Homo sapiens: one gene and its partners. The protein of the gene in region 3 purifies or fractionates together with the protein of the main gene of each other region. This does not show direct contact. Each region holds a gene or a part of one and is shown on either strand. Other genes may lie near its edges.

Evidence for each region.
Region 1: the proteins of EPHX4 (region 3) and RBM6 purify together in Homo sapiens (affinity purification with mass spectrometry; one large-scale study listed by BioGRID and IntAct). This does not show direct contact.
Region 2: the proteins of EPHX4 (region 3) and SERPINB7 purify together in Homo sapiens (affinity purification with mass spectrometry; one large-scale study listed by BioGRID and IntAct). This does not show direct contact.

Annotation. Positions count from the first base shown.
Region 1 is NC_000003.12:50,072,580-50,076,235, forward strand, and holds part of RBM6 (RNA-binding protein 6), read left to right. Parts: intron 1-2,593; coding exon of another isoform or gene 2,594-2,600; exon of another isoform or gene 2,601-2,615; intron 2,616-2,621; coding exon 2,622-2,751; intron 2,752-3,656. UniProt on the Homo sapiens protein: Specifically binds poly(G) RNA homopolymers in vitro.
Region 2 is NC_000018.10:63,795,826-63,799,481, reverse strand, and holds part of SERPINB7 (serpin B7), read right to left. Parts: intron 3,217-3,656; coding exon 3,099-3,216; intron 879-3,098; coding exon 736-878; intron 1-735. UniProt on the Homo sapiens protein: Might function as an inhibitor of Lys-specific proteases. Might influence the maturation of megakaryocytes via its action as a serpin.
Region 3 is NC_000001.11:92,032,967-92,036,622, reverse strand, and holds part of EPHX4 (epoxide hydrolase 4), read right to left. Parts: intron 1-3,656.

The DNA of each region.
Region 1 (3,656 bases), on a different chromosome or scaffold from region 3:
GTATCATGGCCCAATAATAAAGTGTGTGTGTGCACAACTGAAAAAGTTTTCATCTAAAATACTTTCTTACCAGGTACAGTGAACCCTGATATTTTTATTCAAGTCTAGTCTCTCTTCATTTTTATGAGTTGTTACAGTGGGACCATTTAGTGTGACATTCCATTGGGTCATTCTCTGCAATTTGAAATACAGTGGATTAGGACTAGGTGAAGGAGTCAGCCATCAGGAGGAAGGACACCTTGGCCTTGAGTCTTCTGGGACAAGGCTTAGGTGGGGTGCGGAAAGAGACCCTTCTTTATTCTCAGCACCCTTTATACCACATTCTCCTGGCTCTTCTCCTTTCCAGTCACCTTTTCTGCTCCTCTTCCTTTTCTGGATAAATCCAGGTGTTCTCTAGGACTCTTCTCTCAGTGCTTCTTTGGTCTTGCTGCTCTACCCTCTTGACCTGGGCTTTCTAAGGTACCCATGGCCTCAACCACCACCACAGTCTAACAAGTCCAAATCTCCTGTATTATTATTTCAGAGTAGCAGCATCATAGCATCACTGTCTACATGGTCTGATCCATCCTCCTCCTTTATCCCCTGTGTCCAATTAGTGACCAAATCCCTAATTAAGTCTTGCCCCCTGTCTTAGTCTGTTTTATGATACCATAACTGAATACCACAGACTGGGTAATTTATAATGAACAGAAATTTATTTGGCTCATGCTTCTGGAGGCTGGGAGGTCCAAGATTGAGGAGCTGCATCTGGTGAGGGCCTTCTTGCTGTGTCACCTCATGGTGGAAAGTAAAAGAACAAGAGAGCTTAGGCAAAAGAGGGGGTTGGGAGAAAGAAACCAGACTAATCATTTTATCAGGAGAACCCACTCCTGCAATAACAGCATTAATCCATTTGTGAGGGCAGAGCTCTCATGACCTAATCACTTCCTGAAGTTTCACCTCTCAATACTGTTGCATTGGGGATTATGTTTCCAACATATGTACTTTGAGGGACACATTTAAACCACAGCATCTCCCATTCTATTCCACCTCCACACTGGACTCCTACTCCCAGTCTTTGCTCCCACTGTTCTTCAGTCCATTCTCTACCCTGCCACCAAAATGACTTTTGTAAAGAGAAATCTACTCTTATAACTTGTCTTTTTACAAACCGTATACCTTGCCTACAGGGAGGCCTGAGCTCCAACTTTTGCCAGAAGGATGAGGTTCAGAGACATGATTTAGCTTAATAAGTTCAAGGTTTTTTACAGTCTGACCCCATGCAGCCTTTTTTTTTTTTCCTTTTGTTTTGAGACAGTCTCATTCTGTCGCCCAGGCTGGAGTGCAATGGCACGATCTTGGCTCACTGCAACCTCCGCCTCCCAGGTTCAAGCGATTCTCCTGCCTCAGCCTCCCCAGTAGCTGGGACTATGGGCTAATGTTTGTATTTTTAGTAGAGAGGGGTTTCACCTGTTGGTCAGGGTGGTCTCGAACTCCTGACCTCAGGTGATCCACCCGCCTTGGCCTCCCAAAGTGCTGGGATTACAGGCGTGAGTCACTGCACCCGGCCACCAAGCAGCCTTACCTTTGTCAGTTTCTACTACTACTCTCTTGGACAAATTGTCTTTTGTGTCTCCTTGCTTGTGTCCTCCTTTTCTCTTACACAAACTCCTTATTTCGAGATCCAATTCAGATGTATCTTCCTGTTGAAATTCCTGTCATTTTTGGTGATGCCCCTTCAGAGTTTTCGTTCCTTCTACTGCATTTCTTTTTTTTTTTTGAAACAGAGTTTCACTCTTGTTGCCCAGGCTGGAGTGCAATGGCGCGATATCAGCTAACCACAACCTCCACCTCCTGGGTTCAAGCGATTCTCCTGCCTCAGCCTCCCGAGTAGCTAGGATTACAGGCATGCGCCACCACACCCGGCTAATTTTGTATTTTTAGTAGAGACAGGGTTTCTCCATGTTGGTCAGGCTGGTCACGAACTCCCAACCTCAGGTGATCTGCCCACCTCAGCCTCCCAAAGTGATTCCTTCTACTGTATTTCTATAGCAGACATCTACTGTTGCTACATCCATGGTTGAGCTCTCTTCAATGTTCTATAAGCATCTCTTGACATAATGTTTGAGACCTTTCTTGTGAACAGGGCCATATCTTAGTAGTCTGTGTACCCAGCAACAAAACATAGCTATCAGGCACTCAGAGGTACTGTTAAATATACTTACTTAATAAGAGGCAGATATGAATCAAGAGGACAGAGATTTTATATTAGGCTTATAAGCAGGTCTTCATCAAAATGATGGTGTCAGGTTGGGCATGGTGGCTCATGCCTGTAATCCAGCACTTTGGGAGGCCAAGGCATGCGGATTACCTGAGGTCAGGAGTTTGAGAGCAGCCTGGCCAACACAGTGAAACTCTGTCTCTACTGAAAAAAAAAAAAATTAAAAATTAGCCAGGTGTGGTGGCGGGCACCTGCAATCCCAGCTAATCGGGAGGCTGAGGCAGGAGAATCGCCTGAACCCAGGAGGCAGAGGTTGCAGTAAGCTGAGTTCGAGCCATTGCACTCCAGCCTGGGCAAAAAGAGTGAAACTCCGTCTCAAAAAAAAAAAAAAAGGAAGTGATGGTGTCTGCTTCTTTTGCAGTGATCGTAAACTTGTTGATAAAGAAGATATCGACACTAGCAGCAAAGGAGGCTGTGTCCAACAGGCTACTGGCTGGAGGAAAGGGACAGGCCTGGGATATGGCCATCCTGGATTGGCTTCATCAGAGGAGGTAAAATGGTTTCCATCTTTTGGGGGGTGACATGAACCTGGAATGTAATTAACTTTCACTTTCTGGCCTAGAGTGATGTCTTTGCCATTTTGCTGGGCTTTCTCTACTGCTGGGATAGGACATGAGAGTTGAACACTTTAGCCTTGAATACTGGGTTATAGCTTGGCAGGCTGGGCCCTTTGCAGTTTGGAGTTAGGAAGAGAAGGAAGGAGTTGGAATGGATTTCATCATACTTTTACATGGAGTAAATAGTAGAGCAGTATCTGAGGCAGTTTGAGACTGAAGAATCATTTGGGCAAAAGAACCAGGGAATCAGCAATGAAAGGTACAGAGGCATCTCTGAGAGGGACTGTCAGCGGAAGTCTTTGGTGGCTAAAATTTAAGGAGCATGTTGTTCTGGTTCCCATGAAGGACTTTGCCCCTCATATTTCAAGAGCCTCTAGAAAAGGTGATAAGAGGAAACATTACCCATTTTGTGTTGGCTTGCTTCTCCTCTGAAAATGCCAACCATAAGAGATTGGCTTATTTCTCTCCTACCGAGTTTCTCATATCTCTGGTATTAAAGCCTGTATCTTGCAATCATAGCATCACCACCCACCTTAATTCATCTTGGGTATTTGTTTAATAATGAAAGATTCTTTTCTTTTTTTTTTTTTGAGACAGAGTCTTGCTCTGTCGCCCAGGCTGGAATGCAGTGGTGCGATCTCAGCTCACTGCAACCTCCTCCTCCCAGGTTCAAGCAATTCTCCCACCCCAACCTCCTGAGTAGCTGGGATTACAGGTGCATACCACCATACCCAGCTAATTTTTGTGTTTTTAGTAGAGACAGAGTTTTGCCATGTTGGCCAGGCTGGTCTCGAACTCCTGGCCTCAAGTGATCCGCCCACCTCAGCCTCCCAAAGTGT
Region 2 (3,656 bases), on a different chromosome or scaffold from region 3:
GAGTGTTTAAAACAATATTATGATATAGTAATGCTTTTTAAAATAAAAAGAAATTAGGAGAAAAAGAATAACACATGAAACAGGAATGCAGCTTCTGTGAAGCAAGGCAGGGGCCCCAATACAACATTCCTGACTGCAAGAGCTTTGTTGTTTCTGCTGTACTAAGATTACTGTGTACAAATTGATTTTAAAACCCAAGAATATATGTTTTATAAAGGTTGGCAATAAGATGTTTTAGATCAAAAACAGAACTAAATGAAGAAATACATATGGCTTGTACTTGGAAATGCATAACTTTACTAAATATAACTTTTCCCCTTGCAAAAGAGAACACATTCCCTGCTGTGACTCAGGAAAATCATTGATGGTAAATGATTTTAAGTATAGACCTCATGGTTAAAAAAATGAAAAATGAAAAATACACTTTTGTCATATATTTTCTTATAGGTCTCCAATTATAATATCTTAAGATACATTCATACCACTTCTTTCAATTTTGAATGTATTTTAAAGAATACCAATTTACAAGACACGTTTGGTGGTGTTTCATAGCCTGCATGACAGGGAAAATAGAAAGTTTGCTTTATAAAGCAACTGACCATATGATATTGGTAATGCAAAAGAAGAAATGGGTTTAAAACGGTGAACCTAGAGTTTACTATGTAACTATCACAGTCCTGCAAAGGAATACGATTGTGGAAAAGTTCTAAATTAAATAGGAGATTGACGACATACCTTGGGAGATTTGAAATGGCAATTTATGGTTTCGCTCTTGGTGAAGGCTGATTGCCACTTGCCTTTGAAGTACACAGCATTCACCAGCACCATTACAGCAGATGAGCTTATGCCACCTTCACCAATCACGTTCTTGATTTTGCCTTTTGAAAAAAAAATTGAGGGAAAAATGTTTATTTTAATATAATTTTAAAAATGATTTAAAAAGACCATTAATTGGTATGAAGTTTTTTTCTTAACACATAATAACACCAATAAGAATATTAAGAATAACCTATGAGCAATTAATGTGTCCAGCACTTTCTAGGCCCTTTAAAGGCAATCTTTGGTTTAATCCTTACATAATCCCTGTGAGGTAGGCACTATTATTGTTTCCATTTCCTGTTGAGGAAGCTAAGGCACAAAGAGATTAAGACACACAACAAGAAAGTGATAGCAATAGGATTCCAACCCAGGGAGACAACCCCAGGGTCCCTGCTCATAGGTACCAAAGTGCCTTTACTGCATTGACTAGGCCACCTTTTGCTACTACAGTACTTCAATCCATTGAAAGGTAATGCCCTCCTTCATTCCACATAAATGAAATTTTTGCTGGATGCTATGCACTATTCTGCATATTTGAATTACAAATATGAAAGACATAGCCTGTGCCATCATTGAGCTCCCAGTCCAGCACAGAAGAGTCAACATCCAAAGAGCAGTTGTAACCCACCAGTAACATAGAGGTCTGACCTCAGTGCACTGTGGGAGCACAGATTAAAGTCACCCAACTTTTTCTGTGGCTATCTGCTTTAGCTGAAGAACAGTGGGGAGCAGGAAGAGCTTCCATAAAGCAGAGACTATTTATTCAAAGGCACAGAAACCTGAAAGAGCAAGGTGTATTTGTCGGGGAGAATAAGGTTGGCAAGATTGGAAGCAAGGGCCTGATAATGAAGAGGCTTGAATGTCTGGTAAGAATTGTGGATTATTTTGAAGATGATGGGAAATAATTGCTCAGGATTCATTGAAAGACAAGAAAGGTCATGGTCATGATGGATCTGATTTGCCTTTCAAAAGGATGGCTCTGATATTGTGTAGAGGATGTGGGCTTCAAGACCTGGGTAGGGTTGTTTAGAATATTGGCAACATTTTAAAGTGCTTCCTCAAATAAATATTGAGTAGATATGCTTATGAAAAATTAGAGTAATTATGCATAGATTTACATGAGAAAGGAAGAGAAATAAATAACTAGTCTAAATAGAAAAAGTTGTTAGCAATCTGACACCCTTATGTTAAATATTAAATAGAATCCCACCTAGATTTTAGAAGAGTAATAATTACATAGTTTGTCTTGATTTATAAGTGCTATATATGAAACAGGTGATGGCTAAACATCAAAGTAACCCACTATGAATATAATGAGGAATGAATGAATAAAAAGAAAATTTATACACTGCATTCTTAGTCCCAGGACTAAGTGTATGCTGCTGAAAGTTTGCATTTAAAAGTGCAAGATATATTATATCATATTTCTGAGGCACAGCTAGGCTTAGTAAATACAGGTACAATATTTAGAGTACAAATCAAGGCCAACCCTTAGGTAATGAAACAACTACTAGCTTTGGAATTGGTTGATGAACAAAGCAAGGATTAATAAATTTCTTTATTTGCTTTGCACTAAACCAGAACATTAGCTGGAATTACGTTTTTAGTTGTGACAGAGACTTACCAATAAAGAGCTGTACTTTTTCTGGAAGGTACTACCTTTGTTACATAAATTATTTTGGTAAATAAAGAACATTTTTAAATGAGAGATATACTATACATCCTTGGAAAAAGCAATATCATGAAAATACATTTCTTTGACAGTAGAATGTTATAGCTTTAATAAGATTCAGTCCATAAAGCAATTATAAAGTATGAAAATCAGCCCTATCTTTAAAAAATAGGTTGATTATTAAATGAAATGTTATGCTGTGGTCATTGAAAATAATAATGTGGTCATTGAAAGTAATAAGAAAATAATAACTCTTAGTTTTTGTTCACTAACGAGGGTGAGATATTGAGGTTAATTTATCAAATTAACTCAGCTTGTTATTCATATATGAAGTGGTCACAATAATATGTTTGTCCTGCAGGGTTTTGCCAATTAAATGAGATAATGTAAAAGACTGAACTTCTGAAAAGTACAAAGCATTCAAATTATTAAGATTATTCCAAACCACATTGCAGACAAATACTAAAGCAATTTTAAGTAGCAGCAATCATTACTTTGAACTAGGAGGAGCTGTTCCTTGTATGTACAAAAGACTCCCAGCTTTTGTTCCCAGTATTCACATATAACTGACAAATCTTGTAGAAAAATAGGGTATTTCAATACTCACCATGTGTTTCATTTTCAACCCACTTATTAATATTACGTCTAGTGTCTTCTAAATGATTCGTAAAGTCAACTCGCTCCACTTTGGCATCGTATAATTTTTCGGCACACTCAATGTAGTCCTATAAAGAAGAATATAGTTCTCGTATTTACAAATCATCACCAACTAAGTATATAAGAAATGTATTTTTGAACTTTTAATTTCGACTGCTTTATTCAAAGGTTCAACTCTGCCTCAAAAATGAGTATGTAAATATAGGGATATATGGAAATGGGACTGGAAGGGGATCTGGTGTATCTGAAGTTGAATTTGTTCAGCAAATACTCTGTTTAAACTTAAGTTTATCTGAAATGGATTTGAGGAGGCTAATAGAGAATGGATAAAGCCCACCCTTTTACCACTGCGTTCTCATATTAAATAACTCAATAGCCTCCTAACCAGTCTCCCTTGCCTGTGTCATCCCTTCCTGCTGCAAATTTTTCAAGGCTACATTATTGCACTCAAGACAAAGCCCAAGCTCTTGAAACTTGCCGACAAGACTCTGCTGATCCCCACCCTGCT
Region 3 (3,656 bases):
ACTCATGCCTGTCTATGATCTTCACATATTTCTTAATCTATGGCTTTTCAGAGTGAAAATATTTCTAGGAGCTTCCCAAAAACTAAACTATTCCTCACAATGACCAAATCCCTTTTGGATACATCCAAGACTTGACTTTGCGGGGGCAAATGGGAATGATATCCAGGGACCAGTGCTGGACCCCCTCCTAGGCTGTTTCATCCCCTGATGATTCTAGGACAAGAATCACCAGCCATTTCTATTTTGCAAAAGGGCTCTCATGAGGAGTAAATAATGAGACATGACTGTGAAAAACACGCACAAAATCTCTTAGAATACGACAGAGAGCATCTACTGCCCTGTATGAAAGTGGTTGTAGGTTCATTTTTATCTTTGTGTATATTGTTCTGCACGTAAAGAGGTGAAATTCCAGGGGAATAAGGATGGCCAAGTACTGGGGTTGGTGTGAGGTAGAGAAAGAAAATAGCTTTCAAATGTTTTCTTTCTAAAAAGTTAAGTATCATCTCTCCGATGCATGAATTTTATTTAGGATGATGATTTAAAATGTTAAATTAAGGTATTTTTATATTGTTGGCTGATTTGTTAACACCCTCTTGAATGTTTGTATAAGGTGTGACATTTGAAAGGTAAAAATCCATGCATGTTATTGGATCAGATTACTATAATTCCTATAGAATGAGAACAAACTGCAGAGGTCAGCCCTGACTTTCAAAAACAAGGGACACCTGACTTTCTGGCACTGCCAACTTCAGAAGGGTAGCTATGGGGCTTAAATGAGATGGTATATATAAGTCACTTACAAAAGTACCTGGCTTGGGAGGGGAACAACACACACTGGAGCCTGTTGGGGGTGGGGAGAGGGAGAGCATCAGGATAAATAGCTAATGAATGCTGGACTTAATACCTACATGACGGGTTGATAGTTGCAGAAAACCACCATGGCACACGTTTACCATGTAACAAACCTGCATGTCCTGCACATGTATTCCAGAACTTAAAATAAAAATAAAAAAGAGAGTGCCTGGCTCATAGTAAATGCTTAGAAAATGTTAACTATCATCACCAGAGTTAGGAAATTATTATTTGACACATGGATCTCCACAATGAATGAATGGGAATGAAGGAAGAAAATGAGTATTTACTGAATATTCACTGGGGCCACGTGAAAGATTTTCGACATTTTGACTCTCTTCATCCTCACCCAACTTTGCAACATCATTGTAGATGACTGTTTAGGGTTCTTCAGCAAACTAGTGGTTGAGCCAGAATGTACTGCCCATGCTATGTTAGGCAGATTTGATCAGTGTTTCAGAGTAACATTTTATTGTGAACTAATTATGCCACGCACTCCATAAGGTGAGACCATATGCATATGCTCGAATTGCACTGGGCAGCTAATCTACCACCTCATTAAGCTGTCTCCAAATGAAAGAACAGATCAAAGCATAACATGAAAATGACTTATGTTTATTTATGCACATAAATCCAGAAGGGGAAAAAAATCTTCATGCAGGGAAAATCTTCTAAGGAAGACTTCTCACTCTGGAAAAATTATTAGGTATAGGTGTCTTTGCCATCCTCCACTCTTTTCTTCAATGCCTAATACCTCCTAGTACACTAACATCCTCAATACATTTATTCATAAAGTCCCTTTCACTCACAAAGTATTAACTAAAGTGGGTCGGGTGCAGTGGCTCACACCTGTAATCCCAACATTTTGAGAGGCTGAAGGGGGCAGATCACTTGAGGTCAGGAGTTTGAGACCAGCCTGGCCTGTTTAACATGGTAAAACTTTGTCTCTACTAAAACTTCAAAAATTAGCTGGGTGTGGTGCGCACTTGTAATCCCAGCTACTTGGGAGGCTGAGGCTGGAGAATCACTTGAACCCAGGAGATGGAGGTTGCAATGAGCTGAGATTGCACCACTGCACTCTAGCCTGGGCAACAGAGCAAGACTGTTTAAAAAAAAAAAAAAAAAGAAGCGTCTTAAGGTAGTAATCCTTTCAGCACTAGATGCATTTTAAATCAGGATTTTGAGTGACATAAAATCTTTAAGACTCTAAAGGAGGTAAGAAATCTGTAATGCTGGAATTCTAGGAATTATAAGATAGTAAGGGAGAATTTGGGGACAGGATATTGTCCTAGACCTTTCAAAATATACCAGATATTCCACCTTTGAGTCAACTAAGGGAACTGGGCTTTTAAAAACATCAATTTCTTGACCTATTTAGTTTATGAACTATTTCTTATAGCCCTGTGCTATAAAAACTGGTTTTCTTTTACTGCCATGATATGTACCACCCTTTTTTTTTTTTTTTTTTTTTGAGACGGAATCTCGCTCTGTTGCCCAGGCTGGAGTGCAGTGGCACGAGCTCGGCTCACTGCAAGCTCCGCCTCCTGGGTTCACACCATTCTCCTGCCTCAGCCTCCCGAGTAGCTGGGAGTACAGGCGCCTGCCACCAAGCACAGCTAATTTTTTTTTTTTTTGTATTTTTAGTAGAGACAGGGTTTCACCGTGTTAGCCAGGATGGTTTCAATCTCCCGACCTCGTGATCCACCCGCCTCGGCCTCCTGATATGTACCACCTCTTTTAAAGATGTTCATTAAAAAAAAAAAAAAAAAAAAAGTTTAAACATGTGTTGCTTTCATCTGTACTTATTTGGCCCAGTGGGGTCAATAGAGAACAGAACACTTCCCCTTAGGTAACTGCTATGGTCTGAATATGTTCTCCCAAAATTCATATGATGAAGTTTATTTGCCTCCAGAAGACACATCAACAAGGCACCATGTTGGACACACACAGACATGGATGTCACCAGACTCTGAACCTACTGGTGCCTTGATCTTGGATTTCCCAGTCTCCAGAACGGTGAGAAATAAATTTCTATTCTTTATAAATTACCCAGTCTCAGGTATTTTGTTAGCAACAAAAATGAACGAAGATAGTAACTAATAATTACATATTTGGGGCTCCAGATTTTCTTCCTAATGAGAAATATTTAGGTACTTAAATTATCCTGCATTCATATAAGCCTATTGCTCTGTGCATAGGAAATAGTTCATTTTCAGTTTCCATAAGTGCTCTACTCTGCCTTCTCCTCACCCCAGCCTCACCAAAATCTTCCTAATAACAATCACTCCACGTCTTTGGTTTGTTTAAAATCTCCTTTCCCTACCCAGTGTTGTATTTTGTCTATAGTAGATACTCTATACAAACTGTTTTGTTACTATTTCAGAAATTTGAAACATTAAAAGATACTTCTTTTAATCCTCAAAAAAATATATAAATTTAAATTGGTAGCAGGTAGGTCTTTTTAGGAGGAAAAAGACCTGTGATTCAGGAACATTTAGGAATATTAACTCTGGGCACATGATCAAAAAGTAGGGTCTGTTAAAAGTCATTACAAGAGGCTTGGCGTGGTGGCTTACATCTGTAATCCCAGCACTTTAGGAGGCCAAGGTGGGAGGATTGCTTGATCTCAGGCTTTCAAGACCAGCCTAGGCAATATAGCAAGATCCCACCTCCAAAAAAAAAAAAAAAAGCTAGGTGTGGTGGTAGATGCCTGTAGTCCCAGCTACTTGGTAGGCTGAGGTGGGAAGACTGCTTAAACCCAGAAGTTCAAAGCTGCAGTGAGCTGTGATCATGCCACTGTGCCC